Linked DNA regions of Homo sapiens: region 2 is linked to region 1. Evidence: fine-mapped expression QTL. A gene starts in region 1. The other region holds a variant in brackets. All regions are shown on one strand. Distances are from middle to middle.

Region 1 (9,232 bases):
TAGTTCTTCTAATTAAAACCATTGTTTTCATTCTTGTTAACCTATGTGAGGAATATAAGCTACTGAAATGGACTGTCACAGTACTTCCCCGTTTAGAAAACTTAAAAATAATTAGTTTTGTTCTTAAAAAATGATATTTAAAGCATAAGCACAATTTGGATCTCTAGCTAAAAGACAAGTAAAAACCAAAACAGCAATGGAAACAACCTGTAAGCTAGAAACTCAGTACTGGAGAAAAAGGAATTGAATTGCAATTTAAAAGACTGCTATAATATGTGATTTTGCCGTTAACGTGTGAAGTATATATGACTCAAATTTTACTTCTTAAATACACTATGTGGTTGAACTGTTTTAAAATAAATATTAGATATAACTTCCAATGCATTCTTTTTTTTTTTTTTTTTTTTGAGATGGAGGAGTCTCACTCTGTTGCCTAGGCTGGAGTGCGGTGGTGCGATTTCGGCTCACTGCAACCTCCGCCTCCCGGTTTCATACGATTCTCCTGCCTCAGCCTCCTGAGTAGCTGGGATTACAAGTGCGCACCACCATGCCCGGTTAATTTTTGTATTTTTAGTAGAGACAGGGTTTCACCTGTGGGTCAGGCTGATCTCAAACTCCTGACCTCGTGATCTGCCCACCTTGGCCTCCCAAAGTCCTGGGATTACAGGCATGAGCCTCGGCGCCCAGTCTCAATGCATTCTAATAGGGCAATAATGAGATAACTACTTCTTTTTTTTTTTTTTTTTTGAGACGGAGTTTCGCTCTTGTTGCCCAGGCTGTAGTGCAATGGCGCGATCTCGGCTCACTGCAACCTCCGTCTCCCGGGTTCAAGCGATTCTCCTGCCTCAGCCTCCGGAGTAGCTGGGATTACAGGCATGCGCCACCAGGCCCAGCTAATTTTTTGTAATTTTAGTAGAGATGGGGTTTATCCATGTTGGTCAGGCTGGTCTCGAACTCCTGACCTCAGGTGATCCACCCGCCTCAGCCTTCCAAAGTGCTGGGATTACAGGCGTGAGCCACCGCGCCCAGCCAACTTTCTATTTTAACAAGTATAACTAATATTAGTGATGACGAGAAAAATACTTTCTTTGAGATAGAACTTACTTCTGCCTATCAAATCATAGCCAATGGATAACTTCATCCTTCATATTACCAAAGTCCTTAGCTCTTTAATTATTCTGATTGTAACAGGATAATCTATCTGGAAGTTTTGGGTTTTTATACATCTACTTTTATTCCACTAACATATTTCTTGGAAGAGTAATGCTGATCTACAACAGTAATATCCGATAGAAATATGTGAGCCATTATAATCCGAGTAATTTTTAATTTTCTGGTAGTCACATTAAAAAAGGTTAAAAGAGGCTAGGCGTGGTGGCTCACGCCTGTAATCCCAGCACTTTGGGAGGCGGAGGCGGGAGGTGGGTGGATCACTTGAGGTCATGAGTTCCAGACCAGCCTGGTCAACATGGCAAAACCCCATCTCTACTAAAAATACAAAAATTAGCCTGGTGTAGTGGTGCCTTCCTGTAATCCCAACTACTCAGGAGTCTGAGGCATGAGAATTGCTTGAACCTGGAAGCAGAGGTTGCAGTGAACCCGAATGGTGCCACTGCACTCCAGCATGGGTGATAGAGAGAGACTGTCTCAAAAAAAAAAAAAAAAAAGTTAAAATAGCTAAAATTATTTTTAGTAATATATTTTATTTATCCCAGTTTATACAAAATATCATTTCAACATGTTGTCAATATTAAAATTACTGAGATATTAAAAAAAATCTTGGTACTAAGTCTTTGAAATCTGGTATTTTACACCTAAAGCACATCTCAATTCACAGAAGCCACATTTCAAATCTTCAACTGTCACATGTGGCCACTGGCTAGTACTGGACAGTGCAACTCTAGAATATTTAAATTATAAAGTAATACTTAGAACTTTTATCAGGAAATTGAGGTAAAACTCACACTTACACTTAAAGCTTTAGTAAAATTAGAGACGCTGATCATAACATTCATGAGACTGGATGCAAAACATGAACTTATTTTTAATTTTCAGCTAGCTTTATTTTACCCATGCTTCCTTTTTCCATCACTAAAAAGTGAAACTTCAACACGGTACAAACTAAACAGTAAGTAGTTACTAAAACCTTGTTATGAAGTTTTTTTTAGCGTTCTTAGCTATTGCAAACAATGTAGAAGTTCAACTTTTGAATATAAAATCCTGAGTGTAAAGAAGAATGCTTTGCCAAAATGCAAATTTTTGGTTTTTTCAAAGTGGAAGACAGCAAATTACAAAAGCAGAGTATGATTTAACAAAAATATATGAACAAAGGACGTAAGTCTTCTTACATGTCAGGTTACCACAACAGAAATAACAGATCAGGGGTAACTCAAAGGATCCACTAATGAACACGAGTGTAATTAAATCCTCATAGAACAAGTGCCTGTTTGAATTATAACATCTGCTTTTTCTAAACGTAACTAGAATATGTTTCACATTCTGTCCTCCTAGCAATTTTCCAAACTCTAAAATTTTGAAAACATTAATCTCCAAATCAACGAAAATGTCAATATTGAAAAGCAGTCTTTAACAGGATGTAACGACCTCTATTTCTTCAAAAATTGAACGTGGAAGTAAACAACGTAAGAAAGGCATGTGAAGCTACAACAGTGGTATAGCTTTTTAGACAGCTAAAAGGTTTTTTAAAAAGGAGAATCTATTAATATTCTTAATATCGTAAAAAGCTTTTAACTAAGTTTGTATGTTTAACCATTAAAAGGCTGCACTGGCTAACATTTGTTTCTTTGCTTTTGAGTGACTTTATACCACTGTGGTATAGCAACGTTAGCTTTCTCAGGTTAACCAAAAGTTCCTACTGGAACTTAAAAGTTTGGCCAATACAAAATTGGAAAAAAGATTACTTAAAGCACTTTATTTGGGATACAAACTCACCCACCCACAATGGGTAGGGGGAGAGTAGAAATGAAAAAAAGGAAGGCCGTGGGTAAGGGGAGAGGAGGAATTAAAAAGGGAACCCAAGGGTTATGAAAATATAAATAAATCACTGGATTAGATTTACTTTATGCCAGTGATTACTTGAGTCAATTTTGGTGTGAAGGATTTATCTGCCGGTATCTTAAACGGCTGCCTTGGGATTTGAAGGATGGAAATGACAGCTACCCTCATCTTCTCCCATCCTGAAAGCTAAGGATAGAAAAAAGTACAGCTGCTTCTCTGGGAAACAAAGATGCTTTCTACCATTCTTCTAAGATGGTGGAAGAGTCTCCTCAAGAGGCTACACCAAAAAGGAAAAATGAGAGAGGGAAAGAAGAAAGCCATAGCAGAATTTCCTGGCTGTGTTTCATGCCATTGCTCCTAGCCACAACCCCTGTGCAACCACTCAGGTCCGGCCGTCCCCATCCTGGGAGGTTAAGCCCTCCCAGGGCATTGTTTGGCCGGGGTTCCTATTTACCACTCAGATCGCCTCCACCACCCTCTACGCTAGGGTCTCGGGAAGCCCCAGGGCAGAAAGCTGAAAAGCTAGGAGAAGACTTGGTTTCGAGGACCTCTTCCAAACCCCCTTACTAACTGGTGTAGAAAAGGGAGAGTGAAGCCGGGCCTTTGCTTGGGTGGGTTCGTTAGGGGTCAGAGGCGTCCGCTCGGCCAGTGTCGAAGGAAGGTGGCCATTTGAGCCGGTCGCTCCGCATCGAAAAAGCCCTACCAGAGAGAGGGGCCTCCGCAGGGCCCGGGTTCCATCCGAGTGTCAGGTGCGGCCCTCAGTTCCCAACCCTCGAGGCACCAGGGGCGACAGCGCACAGGCCCCAGGGCTGAGACTGGTCTCCCGCCCGACCGCCGGGGACCAGGCACCCGGGCTGGGGCCCGAGCCGCATCGTGCCCGCCCCCGCCCTACCTGAGGGGGCCCGGGCGGGGTCGCTAAGGGCCGCTCCCGGGAGCCCCGCGACGGCGCGGCTTGGCGACGGAGGCGCCTCGTCTCGCCGGGGCAGAGCTCGGCGGAGGTTTCACGACCTCAAACTCCATCGGGAGCTACAGGGACAGCCCCGTTGGCGGCGGCGAAGGCCGCGACGGGGCCTCCTCCTCCTCCCTCCACCTCCGCCTCCTCCTCCTCCTCCTCCTCACCACGGAGGCGGACCTGGAGGGATCCCGATCTAGCTCTCGCGAGAAGTTACTCCCCACTTAACGCGAGATTACGCAAGCCCGGGAGTCGGGAGTTGGAAGGAAAGCGTAGTAGCCCCAGCCACCCAAACTGCGAATCAACTTCCCTCTGCCTCAGCGGATCCACCCCGATCACGTGACAAGGGAGCCCCGGAGCACTGTGGGAGGTACTGTGAGAAGGACTAGGCAAGCCGAAGGGATTGATGGGAAATTCCCTGCACATTCATCTGCGCCTTGAGCCGGCTTCCTAGACGCTGGTTTGAGCGAGTGTCTTAACTCCCTTCGTGAAAAGCGTGGAATCCATTGAGCAGAATCTGATACATCTGTGTCACATTCTTCTTCACACTCCTGTGATGACATGCCGACAGGATCCCTCAATCCCTTTACAAAGATGTCAAGTAATCTCCCCATTACAAAAACAAGAAGAAAACATGTATTTGGCAGGCACTTCCACATCTCACTTCTTTATTAAAGAGAAAACTCTGTTTCTAGACAAAGAGTCCAAAGTGGGGGGGGGAGGGGGGGAAGAAAGCTCTGAGCTCCTCAAAAGCTGGCAAAAATAAAAAATTTAAGCACAAATTCTGGCATCATATCTCAAATATTTGTTGAAGCTTTTTACACAGCGAACTAAGGTAAGAATTATTCTTACAGTTTATAATTTATAGATGAAACAGACTTGGAATAGGGATATCAGAATTAACATTTATAAACTACTTAGTATGTGTCAGGCAGGTCCTGTGTTAGGTGATATTTAATTTTAAATATTTTAGTTTTATTTACATTTCATTTAATTAGCAAAGTGATCCTAGAAGACAGATACAATGTACCCCTTGTTACTGATGAGAAACTAAAGAATGTAGGCTAGAAAATGACCATGACGCCGGGCGCGGTGGCTGATGCCTGTAATACCAGCACTTTGGGAGGCCGAAGCGGGTGGACCGCCAGGTCAGAAGTTAGAGACCAGTCTGGCCAACATAGTGAAACCCTGGCTCTACTAAAAATACAAAAATTAGCCGGGTGTGGTGGCGGGCACCTGTAATCCCAGCTACTCGGGGGGCTGAGGCAGGAGAATCACTTGAACCCGGGAGACGGAGGTTGCAGTGAGCCGAGACCGCGCCATTGCACTACAGCCAGGCGGGGGGGCAGTGCCAGACTCCGTCTCAACAAAAAAAAGAAGAAAAAAAATGACCATGACTTGTAATTAAACTCAAGGCACTTTCCAATGTGAAATCAGATGCCCAACAACAAAAATATCGAAGTAAACCTACGATAAATTAGAATATGGAAAGGTTGCTTCTACAGTTTTAACAAAATATATAGTTATTACCTATTATATTTGTCTGAATGACAGGCAAAAATCAGTGTTTTTGAAAAAAGATTCATTGGCCACATCGAAGACGTTTCTTCCACACATTATCTTTTTCGTTCTCTTCTCTTTATGAAACATATGCCAGGCCTAGAGAACTGTTAACAACCAATAATTGTTTCAGTAATTTCAACTGGACAGTGATAGGTAATTTACATGTACATATTTGTTTTCCACCCTACTGTGTATATATATATATACACACATATATACATATATGCACATATATACATATATACATACATATAAATATATATACACATATATAGATACATATAAGTATATATACACATATAAACATACACATTATATATACATATATGTACATATTTTTTTTTTTGAGACGGAGTCTCACTCTGTCACACAGGCTGGAGTGCAATGGTGTGATCTCAGCTCACTGCAACCTCCACCTCCTGGGTTCAAGGAATTCTCCTGCCTTAGCCTCCCCAGTAGCTGGAATTACAGGCACCCGTCATCATGCCCGGCTAAATTTCTTTTTTGTATTTTTGTAGAGACGGGTTTTCACCATGTTGGCCAGGCTGGTCTTGAACTCCTGACCTCAGAAGACCCGCCTGCCTCGGCCTCCAAAAGTGCTGGGATTGCAGGCGTGAGCCACCAGTCCAGGCCAAATTTTTCTATTCTACTGGATATATTTACATTTCACTAGACAGAAGAATATATATTTCTGATAATCCGAGATTTTTCAAAGGTGTCCTGGTCACCATATTTATTTTTGAGATGGGGTCTTGCTCCCTCAGTTAGGCTGACTGCAGCGGTGCGATATTGGCTTACTGCAACCTCTGCCTCCCAGGTTCAACGGATTCTCCTGTCTCAGACTCCCGAGTAGCTGGGATTACAGGCAAGCGCTACCATGCCCGGCTAATTTTTGTATTTTTAGTGAAGGGTTTTCATCAGGTTGGCCAGGCTTGTCTCAAACTCCTGACCTCAAGTGATCTGCCAGCCTCGGCCTCCCTAAGTGTTAGGATTACAGGCCTGAGCCTCGGCGCCCGGCGCTGACCACCATATTTAAAATTGCAATTCCATCCCCCTTCTCTGGTACTCCCTATTCCTGATTTTTCTCCAAATTCCTTCTCAAAATTTGACATACATGGATTTTACTTACTTGTTTACTGTTTGTCTCCCTTCACTAAGATGTTTCACAAGAGCAGGAATTTTTGTCTGTATACCTAACTTATATTTCATTGTAAGGACTCAGGAAGTATTTGCTAGATGAATGATTAATGTATAGTCAGGAGAAATTGTATCCTTTAAATTGTATCCTTTAAAATTCAAAGATGAAGACAAAACACATTGTTCTCCATTCCCACCTCCAGTTTATTATTTCTTATGTAAACATGTAAGATAGTTACATCCCAGGAAAAAGGGCAAGTGTTTTTCTCTGACAACGAAGTAACAACTACCTTTTCAAGATCTTTTATATGTAAATGGAGTAAATGAAGAGGCTGAACTCAAACACTTTTCATTTTTCTGTCATATCAGAAACATAAACTAAATGTGAATATGTTAAATGAATAAATTCTATACTTTGTCATACCTGAACTTTAAAAAAAGATTCCATTTTCCTGAAAATTTTTAGACATATCATGCAAACAGACACTCTCCTAGGAATGTTTGGAGATCATTCCGTGCTACTGAACAGGAATAAATAATATAAATAATAACCATCACTTTCACAAAACACCCCTCCCCCAGCAAAAATCTCAAAGTGCTCACAAAAAATTTTACAACAATCTTACAAGGCACACATAAAACTTAAACATAGTTTCAACCAATTTTTTTTCAAATATCCAAGATAGTAGATACTAATTCTTAAAAAATCAGAGTACTATTCTTTTACCCTCTCCTCCCATCTCCATCCTTCCCCCTTCCCCCCACGCCATTTTATAATAGGAAGCAAAAATAAGAAAAGTACTTCAATCACTAGTAAACTATTTCTGAAAAGAAAATATTTTCACACCAACAAATGGCCAATCTTAGGTCAAATGGAAGCAATGAACTATGAATGAAAAATTAGCAATGAGCTATCACACTTTCCAGTGGAAAAAGATCCACTAATTAGAAAAATTATGTCTCCAATGGAGTACTTAAGTAACAAAGTTCATAAAGACACAAAACCGTCCTCTCTTGCTTTCCCCTCTTCTGTTCTCAGGAAGAATTAAATACAAAATCATGGAATTTTAGACCTGGAAATGATCTTTCAAATGACCAAGATCAAAGTTATTTTACATATAAAGTTAAAAAGTTCAAGGAGAAATTCAGCACAATGTCGCTAACTAGTAACATTGGGTTATGAAGTCGGTTTTTTCATCAAACGAGACCTGCATTCTTGAAAGTCTCAAGGAAAGTTAAAATTCAGTGGAGAATGTCTTTCCCACAAAATTGTCAAAAAAAGGTTAACACTTATAACAACGAACATGTGATTCATTCATCACACAATTTTTATAAATGGTACAAAGTATATTACATTTTAAAATACAGAAGGGCTTCAATAGAAATTAAATACAGTAGAAATTCTACATAAAGCTAAGTTAACTAGAGGAGGACTAGAACAGCTTCAAAGAAAGATGCATCTAGTCAGTCTTCTTTACGAAAAGCAGTTCCTGTGTTTTAGAGAATATTATTTGCCCTGCAGTATATTTTAATCTTTGTTAAAATAATTTATAAAAGTTTTGTGTTATATGTAGACGGAGATGTTAGAGAACTATGGCTCAGAACACCATCTCAAATATGACTCTCGCTAAAATAATCATACAGTCATAGTTTTCCTTTTGGCATATTTTTGGAAATATAAAACTCTAGGGATGGTTAAGATTTTTATCAACACATAGTGAATGGAAATTACATTAATGTAAATGAAAAAATACAACACTAATAGCTACACCTTTTTAAATTGCTCATCTAGTAACAGCTAGAATATATATTGCCAATTCAAAATTTAAAATGACATGGATGAACCTCAAAGTCATTATGCTGGGTGAAAAAGCATTTCAAGAGGGAACGTACTATAAGATTCTGTTTATATGACAGTCCAGAAAAGGCAAAATAATAGTGACGGAGAACTGTTGCCAGGATTAGAGCTAGAAGGAGCTGACTACAAAGGGACAGCATAAGAGAGCTATTGGGAGTGAAGGAACTGTTCTGTACCGACTGCAGTAGTGGTGCACAAATCTTTCTGTTAAAATTCACAGAACTATACACCAAGAAGAAATTTCAATTTTACTTCATGTTAAATAAAAAATAAAATAGAGAGGAACTTTTAAAACAGTAGAACAGATATCCCTGGTAAAGGTAGAATTTCTCATTTTTCACAGCTTCATGCCAATGGTATAATTTTACTGGCCACAAAATTATTAAATCCGATTGTATTAAATAAAATCAAGAAACTCGGGCCCAATGAACCATTTCTTAAGTATGTATACTAATAAGGCATGGAAATAAAAGTATTTTAAGGATTATTAACCCTGTATAAAAAAATTCTGCTATTCCCAAGTGAATCTGAATTGTTACTTTATACATTTTAAAATGAAAAGTATCTTGGTGTTTAGTTTGGAATCCAAGAACAGCTGGTAAAAAGTTAAAAAAAAATTTTTTTAGTGCCATCTGTTCTAAAGTGACTAGAAACAGGTAATAGTGTTTTTACCTTTATTTTCTCTTCTTGTTATCCTAATTCAT
Region 2 (9,232 bases), 69 kb after region 1:
TTTTTCTTAGTAGAGATGGGGTTTTGCCATGTTGGCCAGGCTGGTCTTGAACTCTTGGCCTCAAGTGGTCCACCTGCCTCAGCCTCCCATTGTGCTAGGATTACAGGTATGAGCCACTATACCAGGTCCTGGAATTTTTCTTTGTTTCTGTTTTAATGCTAACATTTATGCTTGGGACATAAACATAAAAGTGGAACCATGAGTTGGGTGTGATAGTGTGTACCTGTAGTTCCAGCTGCTTAGGAGGCTGATGCAGGAGGATTGCTCAAAGCCAGGACTTCAAGGCTGCAGTGCTCTATAAGCATGCCTGTGAATAGCCACTGCAGTTCAGCCTGGGCAACATAGTGATACCCTGTCTTAAAAAAGAAATGTTTTTTTAAACTTTTATTTTAGATTCAGGGGGTACATGTACAGGTTTGTTACAAATGTATATTACATGATTCTGAGGTTTGGGGTACAATTACACCCAGGTAGTAAGCACAGTACCCAATAGATAGTTTTTTCAACCCTTATCCCTCTGTCTCCTTCCCTTCCTACCCTCTGTTGCAGTCCTCAGTGTCCATTGTTCCCATCTTTATGTCCATGTGTACCCAATGGAAAACATATTTTAAAAGTCTGTCACTATTCCACCCCAAAACTCCAAAAGTCCCAGTTGAGTGTCTTGTTGAAAGGTCATTTGACAGCTAGTAACTATCACAGGATAGGAATTCCCATTTTTGAAAATATGATAACCTACACAGCCTAAGAAGTTTCCATTATAAAATAATTAGGAAAGCTGGCTGAAATGTAACAAACAGCTTTTTAATTGCCTAGCTGTATTTACAAGAAAGTAATGACAGTCTTCAAGGAACAAAAACAAAGAGGGTACTGAAAGCTGGAACTATACATATGGGCTGACATTTGGTCTGCACTGAGGAATTTTCTATTCTTTATAACCAAAGTGCTTGGATTTTGATAACTACGTTGGGCAAGAGGTAAGGCCTTGGGTTTAGAGAGAGAGGTGTTGGAGCTGAGATCTCCTCAGAAAGTGTACTCAGGGGCTACTTCCTAACTTGAAAGGATAGGGTAAAAATTCTACCTGTACTTCACAGGAAAGAACATAAGGAAACTTACATTTCTTAGCTTGGACACTAATTTGGAGGAGGGTCTTGCTGGGAATTTATTCCCACAGGCTTGCCTTCATGTATGTTTAGAGTTTGAATTTACACTGCTTGTATGTTCCTTGATTGATAATACTCCAGGCACCTTACAGAAGCAATTGCAGAACTACTCTGGAAGAACATACTTGCCACTCAGGCTACATGGTATTTCCCCAGATAACCCTCTTAAAGCAGAGCACACAATCCAAAATTTACAAATATATACAAAGAATTATTTATTATGAGCAAGTTAGCAAACCCCAGCAGAACTGAATCCCACTGGAACTTGGGCATTAGAATTATTAGGTATAACCTTAAGGGAAATATGATTAAAATCATTAAAGACTTAAAGCAAAATTAGAAAACATTTAAAAAGAACAAAATATCAAAAAATGTAAAAATTAAGCCAACTAAAACTGGAATTCTGCAATTAAATTTAGAGCCAGTGAAATTAAAAGTGCAGCAGATATGTTAAACAGCAAATTACACATGGCTGAAGAGAGAATCAAATACCTGGAAAATGGATCTGAAGAAATTATCCAGAAGATAGCATTGAAAGATATGAAAGACCACTTAAGAGACATGAAAATTAAGATGAGAAGGACCAACCATCTTAAGTGTTCTATAATAAGAGAATGGTGAAGATGGAAGAAAATACTTGAAGAGATAATAGTTGAATATTTTCCAGAAGTGATAAACGATATAAATCATTGGCTTCAAAGAACACAGTAAGTCCCAAGTGGAATGATAGTAGAACTGGAGAACATCATAGCCAGAGAGAAAATAATACAAGGCTGAATGAGAATAGAGATGAAGTGGACTTGGTGCCTGTATTTAAGATGCTTATAGCTTAGGGCAGATGACAATTAAAAATCTTGTTACATTTTTTTCTGTTAGTCTTTCCTTTGTAACAGATTACCTCTGCCCATTGTAGTGGCACATGTCTGTAATCCCAGCACTTTGGGAGGCTGAGGCAGGAGGATCACTGGAGCCCAGGAGTTCAAGACCAGCCTGGGCAACAACAGTGCGACCCTGTCTCTTTAAAAAATAAAAATAAAAATGGTAAGAAAAAAACTCCAAATTACCTCGATACTCAGTGGATTAAAACTATTTCTCTTGATTTTGTGGATTGACTGGTTGGTTTTTGCCAATCTTGCGCTCATACAGCTTCATCTGGTGGGTCGGGTGGGGACTGGACTTGAGTAGGATGGCTGGGTCTCCTTCCATGTAGTCGCTCGTCTTAGGCTTCTTCACAGCATGGTAGTCTTAGGACAGGAGTAGCAGCTGTAAGGCCCTTGGGGCTGTGGGTTAGAAATTATACCACGTGGATTCTCGTGTTCAAAGCAAGTCACAAGTCCAGTTCTTATTCAAAGTTTTGGGTAAATAGGCTATATCTCTTGATTGGAGGTGCTGTAGAGATTCTCTGGCCGTATTTAATTTTCAACATCAGTATAGTTAGATGAATGCTGTGGTGTAGATGAGCAAAGGGTGCTATAGAACAGAGGATGGAAACCTAATTCAGCTTGAGGGAAGGGTCAAGGAAGGCTTCTTGGAGTTGGTAATGCTTTACGTAAGCCCTTTAAATAAAAGTATTATGTGATGGTGTGGTTATAGAAAACATAAAGGTATGGCCGGGCGTGATGGCTCACACCTGTAATCCCAGCACTTGGGGAGGCCAAAGTGGGAGGATTGGTTGAGCTCAGGAGTTGAGACCAGCCTAGGCAATATAGTGAGAGCCTATCTCTTTATATATTAAAAAAAAAAAATACATAGAGGTATATTTCTTTTTTTTTTAACCTAGTCATCCATAAGCAGGTATTTTTCGTAATAAAATGTTTTGACAACTCATATCAAAATGTGAGAACTTTCCATAAAAGCAGAACATGTATTTTCTCCATCTGACTGACTATATGTTCCTCTCAGTTGGGAATCTTAGCTCTTACCCAAAGATACTCTATAAATACTGGTTGGGGATGCATTGATGAACTAGTGTTTCTTATGCAGAAAGATCAGTTACTTTTTTTTGCTTTTGAGACGGAGTCTCGCTCTGCTGCCCAGGCTGGAGTGCAGTGGCATGATCCCTGCTCACTGCAAGCTCCACCTCTCGGGTTCACACCATTCCCCTGCCTCAGCCTCCCAGTAGCTGGGACTACAGGCGCCCACCACCATGCCCGGCTAATTTTTTGTATTTTTAGTAGAGATGGGGTTTCACCGTGTTAGCCAGGATGGTCTCGATCTGACCTCGTGATCCACCCGCCTCGGCCTCCCAAAGTGCTGGGATTATAGGCATGAGCCACCGAGCCTGGCCAGATCAGTTAATTTTTTAAACTCTTTAATCCTCATAGAGTTTTCTTCTTGAAAAATCTAATTGACATTATTTAGATGAAAGAAAATTGCCAAACTTTATTAAAATAGCAGATAACAAAAGTCACTCTGTCTCAGTAATGCCGAAACTAATCTTCTGATTTGGTTTCTGATACTGCTTTTTTAGAACCTGATAATCTGCTGGACGTGGTGGCTCACGCCTGTAATCCCAGCACTTTGGGAGGCCGAGGCGGGCAGATCACCTGAGGTCAGGAGTTTGAGACAAGCCCGGCCAACATGGCAAAACCCCATCTCTACTAAAAATACAAAAATTAGCTGGGCGTGGTGGCATGCACCTGTAATCCCAGCTACTCCGGAGGCTGAGGCAGGAGAATTGCTTGAACCCGGGAGGCGGAGGTTGCAGTGAGCTATCACGCCACTGCACTCCAGCCTGGGCGACGAGCGAAACTTCGTCTCAAACCAAAAAAAAAAAAGAAAAAAAGAACCTGGTAATCTTGTCCTCTGTAATGCAGATCTTTTATTCAGCAAAGTTACTGAACATGAGCTCAGTTTAATTAAGAGGGTTATAGTGGTGGTGGCAGTGGAGACACATCAGTAAATACGTCATCATGATACAATTCATCATGTACTAGAATCTAGGTATGAGCGAACTGTGTGAGAATGTAATTGTTGCCTAAAGAAGAAAAGAAAGGTTATGTGTAGTAGGTGATAGTTGAGAAAATATTAAGAGTGCCCTGTACAAACAAGTGAGCCTGTAACGTGGTAAGATCCAGAAGCTTGAAAGAACATGGAGTCAGGACTACTGTAGGTAGAAGAATTGATTGTATTTGCTTTTCTTTTCCTCCCAAGATGGAAATGGCTTTGTCTTTTTTTTTTTTTTTTTTTTTTTTTTAGTTATAATAATGTTTGCTTGATATAGAAAACCAGGCAGTAAGAGAAGTAACTAAAACCCAGCCATGGCCATGTGCAGTGGCTCATGCCTGTAATCCCAACACACTTTGGGAGGTGGAGGCAGGAGGATTGCCTGAGCCCAGGAGTTCTAGACCAGCCTAGGTAACATGATGGGACCCTGTCTCTATTTTTAAAATAAAAAAATTAAAATAAAACCCATCCATAATCCCATTACTTAGTGAAACAGTTGTAAATGTTTTGGGCCTGTCTTCAGTTGACTTTTCAGGATAAATTCACAAGCTGCTGTTCTTTCCCGTCCTCTTTTTATTTTAAAGTAATACTAGAAATTCTAATGATAACTTTATGTTGTTTGGTTCTTCCTTCATAGAGTAAGATAAAAAGACTGATAATCAGAACAGCCATGGTTTATAAAGTAAATCATAAAGAAATTTACTGATTTAACAAAGATCACAGAATGAGTGTGTAAGCAGGTTTGAGATTAGTAACTAAATCTTCAAATATCCAAATTGGACTTTTGGTTATTTCGTGTCATGTATTCTGACACAGCTAAGGTTATTTAGTGTTATAAGTAACATACATACTTCTTAATTGCTCAGCTTTTACACTGAAGCTCAGCAATATTACTCAGTTTGAACCATTTTCATTTGTGTTTTTACTGCAGTAGGATTAAAATAGTGGAAACTGTAGATCATCAGGAATTCGTCTTTAATTTTCTGATCATCTAGGGACTTCTCAAGCACAAAGTGTCCCTTCCTAAGCATGTTTTCTTGAGGGCCTAAATATCCTTCAGAAAAGGATCCCAAACTGCCTGAAGTAGCTTTGTATAACTGGCAAATCAAGTGGGGCCAAGTTGGTATTGTTGCAGTGAAAGGAAACAAGGACTATAAAATTAGAAGTAGAAAATTGAGACCAGGAA[A/G]TGACTCTGGATTTTGCCTTTGGAACATTTTGTCCTTTGGTTCCATAAATGCAATTTTGCTCTCAAGGAAACAGACTTGTAGCCAATTCTACCGTATAAGATATTGCCCTTATTTGATATATTTAGAAAGGACAAATGTTATTCCAGTATGCTGCTTTTGTACATGAATAGTAGGTGTGTTCTTAGAGTTTCTTTGGGCCACGAAAAGTAGAACTACTTGCTTTCTAAGTTTATTGTTTTCAAACCTCAACTCTAATAGGTGGATCAGAGTTTCTTTAGAAAGAGCTGAGAGTGGGGTGGAGGAATACCAACACTTATTGGATGCTATTTGGCAGGTACTGTGGTGTGAGAGTTAAATGAGATAGTTCTGTAAAAACCACACGATACAGTGCCTGAAATATACGTAAGTGCCCAATAATGTTATCAAACCCTAATAACAATCCTGTGAGATAGATATTAACATCCTCATTTTAGAGATGAGACAGTTGGGGCTCCCAGACATTAATTTGCCCTCAGTTACAGAGTTAATGTCAGAGCAATGTCCCAAAGCCAGATATGTCTTACTTGGGAGTCCAAGTATGGCTACTAAGTTCAGTTGCATAGGCTTTGCACACTACAGTTCTAGTGAGAGCCATTCAGATAATCTGTGCTGTGAATGGGGTGCCTCTTGGAGTTGTGCCACAAAACAACTCTGGGCCCAGTTTTTTTTAGTACCACCCTGCTATGTAAGCAGAATTATGAATAAACAATTCATCATGCAGTCTCCATCCCTGCAAACGTTTATGTCATATGTTTACAGTAGCTGCTAAATGCTAAATTGGCCTTTTTATGTTTATTGTTTTCCTTAACAATTCAGGACTTTCCTAAAGAACTGTTCCTTTTAATGTAGAGTACATGGAAATAAACACAAATCTAAATGTAATTCTTAGTTGTACTATTCATAAATATTTGTTTTGCTTTTTTTGTCTTCATATTTGTGCTAAATTACATTAGAAGTCTTTGTTGGACTTCAAAATATATTGTTTGTGTTTTGCACTGGGCTCTTTGCAGTGTTCTTATTGTAAATGTTAGCCCTTAATGACACTTGCTCAGAATAATGAAAACAGATGGTATTTGTTTTTGTTTTTGTATTTTAGTAGATAAAGCTAAAGTCATTCAGATTTCCTTTCTATAATTAAACCAAAATTTGTAGAATATTCAGTATCCAAGTAGGATAAAATCATACTGCTTTGGCTTCCATTCTTTGCATTTGTAACATTCAGTTCAGTAAATATGTATTTCAGGTGTATTTTGTCCCAGTCACTATCTGAAGCTTTGGGGATATAAAGATAATTTAACAAACAGTCTCTGCCCAGTCTGGTTCAAGGGACTCTCTAAACAAATATTTTCTAAAACAAGTAGCAATGCTAGAATAAACATATATGCTAATATTATGGTAGCCCTGAGGAGGGAGTGATTAAATCCTATCTAGAACGGTTAAGATCTCCCAGAGGAGATAACAGAATTTAAGGTTGGTCTTAAAGAATACACAGGAGGAGAGGATGACTTTCCAGGAAAGGAAACACTCTATACAAAGTATGGGTGCTTGAAAGTTTATGGTGGGTCCTGGGAAAGTTGAGTAGTTTGCTGTGACTAAGTGACTGGAAAGGCAGATTGAGCAGAGTTGTGAAAAGACTAATAGGATATACTTATGAATTTGGGCTTTATCTTGTGGGCATTGAGGAACCATGGAAGGATTTAAAAACAAGGCAGTGCTTGATCACAACTAAGACTGGCAATTATAAGTTGAATGGTGGCCATATGTGAAAGAGAAGAGAGAGAAAGAAGGCAGGCAAACTACTAACTGCAGTAGGCTTACGTAAAATGAAAGAGGTTGTCCTAAGGTATTAGCTATGCAGAGAAGATAGAAGGGAAAAATGGACAGACAAGGGTCAATAGGATTTGTGAGTTATATGGGAATGAGAGAAATCAAGGATGATTGTAATTCTTAATTTGGCCATGGAGTGAATGGTAGTGCAACTCATTGATTAAAAAAGGATGCAGGAGGGCTGGGTTCGGTGGCTCATGCCTGCTAATCCCAACAGGGAGGCCAAGGCGGGCAGATACTTGAGGCCAGGAGTTTGAGACCAGCCTGGCCAACATGGTGAAACCCACCCCATCTCTACCAAAAATACAAAAATCAGCTGGGCGTGATGGCGCATGCCTGTAATCTCAGCTACTCGGGAGGCTGAGACATGAGAATCGCTTGAACCCAGGAGGCAGAGGTTGCAGTGAGCAGAGATTGCGCCACTGTACTGCTCAACCTGGGCGGCAGAATGAGACTGTGTCTCAAAAAGAAAAAAAAAAGCAGGAAGAGGATCAGTGGCTTAAGTTTTGGACAGAATAAGTTTGATGTATCCAACTGAAGGTCTCTATCCAGTAGACAGTTGAGGAAGGGATTGTAGATAGAGATTTGAGATTGTTTGTTGTTGGGAGTAGATACCATACAGTGGCACAGGAGAGTCTAATAACGTGAAGTTAATGCCAAAGACAGAATCCTGGATGAGCACCTTTAGTAGGGTACATAGAAAAAAAGGAACAGTTGTGTTCTCAAATTGCATCTTTTGTGGAAATCATACTTTTTCTGTTTTATTTTAGGTCAGATTTTTTGAGGTAAAATTTACACCAATAAAATGCAACCCTCTTAGTTGTACAGTCCTGAGTTTTAACAAATGTAAAGTCTCATGTAACGACCAGCACAGTCAAGATGGGGAATACTTTTATTACTCCCAAAAGTCCCCTCGTGCATCTATTTAGTCATACCTTTATTCCCCTTCCCTGATAACCAGTGATCTGATTTCTGTCCCTATAGTTTTGTCTTTTCCAGAATGCCAGGTAAATGGAGTCATACAGTATGTAGTCTTTTTGTGTATGGCTTCTTTTACATAGAATAATGCTTTTGAGATTTGTCCATGTTATTGTGTGTATTAGTAGTTTATTCCTTTTTATTGCTTAGTAGTATTCCATTTTATAGATCTATAAGAATCTTTTTATTAATCTACTCACCAGTGAATAAACATTTGGGTTGTATTCAGTTTTTGGCTATTATGAATAATGCATTAACATTTGCAGCCGGGCATTGGTGGCTCATTCCTGTAATCTCAGCAACTTGGGAGGCTGAGATGGGAAGATCGCTTGAGCCCAGAAGTTTGAGGCTGCAGTGAGCTATGATCGTGCCACTCTCCTGCAGCTTGGTCAGCAGAGAAAAACCCTGTCTCTCAAAAAATAATTTGCAAACAGATTTTTGTGTAGACATATGTTTTTATTTTTCTTGGGTAACTAATACCTAAGAGTGAGTCATATGGTAAGTGTAATGTTTAACCTTATAAAACTTTATAAAAAATGGATAATATGACTAGACCATTTTGCATTCCTACCAGCAATGTACGAGGGTTTTCTAGTCGCTCCTTATTCTTGCCAGCCCTTCCTATTGTCAGAGTTGTTTTGAATTTTAGTCATTCATTTTATTTTATTTTATTTTATTTTACTTTATTTTATTTTATTTTAAACAGGGTCTTGCTGTGTTGCCCAGGCTAGAGTTCAGTGGCATAATCTCACTGCAGCCTCAACCTCCTGGGTTCAAGTGATCCTCCCACCTCAGCCTCTTGAGTAGCTGAGACCAAGGTGTGTGCCAGTACTTCTGGCTAATTTTTTAAATTTTTGTAGAGTCGGGGTCTCACCATGTTGCCCAGGCTAGTTTCAAACTCCTAGAGACACACAGTCCACCTGCCTCAGCCTCCTAAATTGCTGGGATTATAGGCATGAACCACTGCGCCCAGACTATAGTCATTCTTATAAGGGTATAGAGGCATCCTATTATAATTTCTATTTCCCTGATGGCTAGTAATGTTGAGTTTCTTTTTATGTGCTTATTTGCCATCTGTGTATCTTTGGTGAAATG

Evidence for each region.
Region 2: its variant is fine-mapped to the expression of RC3H2 in whole blood (INTERVAL, PIP 0.97).

The regions. Positions count from the first base shown.
Region 1 is chr9:122,901,200-122,910,431 of GRCh38, forward strand. It overlaps RC3H2 (ring finger and CCCH-type domains 2), which reads right to left and starts at 4,160. Exons shown (of 21, transcript NM_001100588.3): 1 at 3,911-4,160. ZBTB6 (zinc finger and BTB domain containing 6) reads right to left here. Exons shown (of 2, transcript NM_006626.6): 2 at 6,857-9,232. RefSeq lists a silencer at 3,615-4,264.
Region 2 is chr9:122,970,086-122,979,317 of GRCh38, forward strand. The region is part of intron 2 of RABGAP1 (RAB GTPase activating protein 1); the gene reads left to right. Among named protein-coding and RNA genes, the nearest start is that of RABGAP1, 34 kb to the left of the region's middle. The variant A/G (reference allele first, on the strand shown) is at 5,293.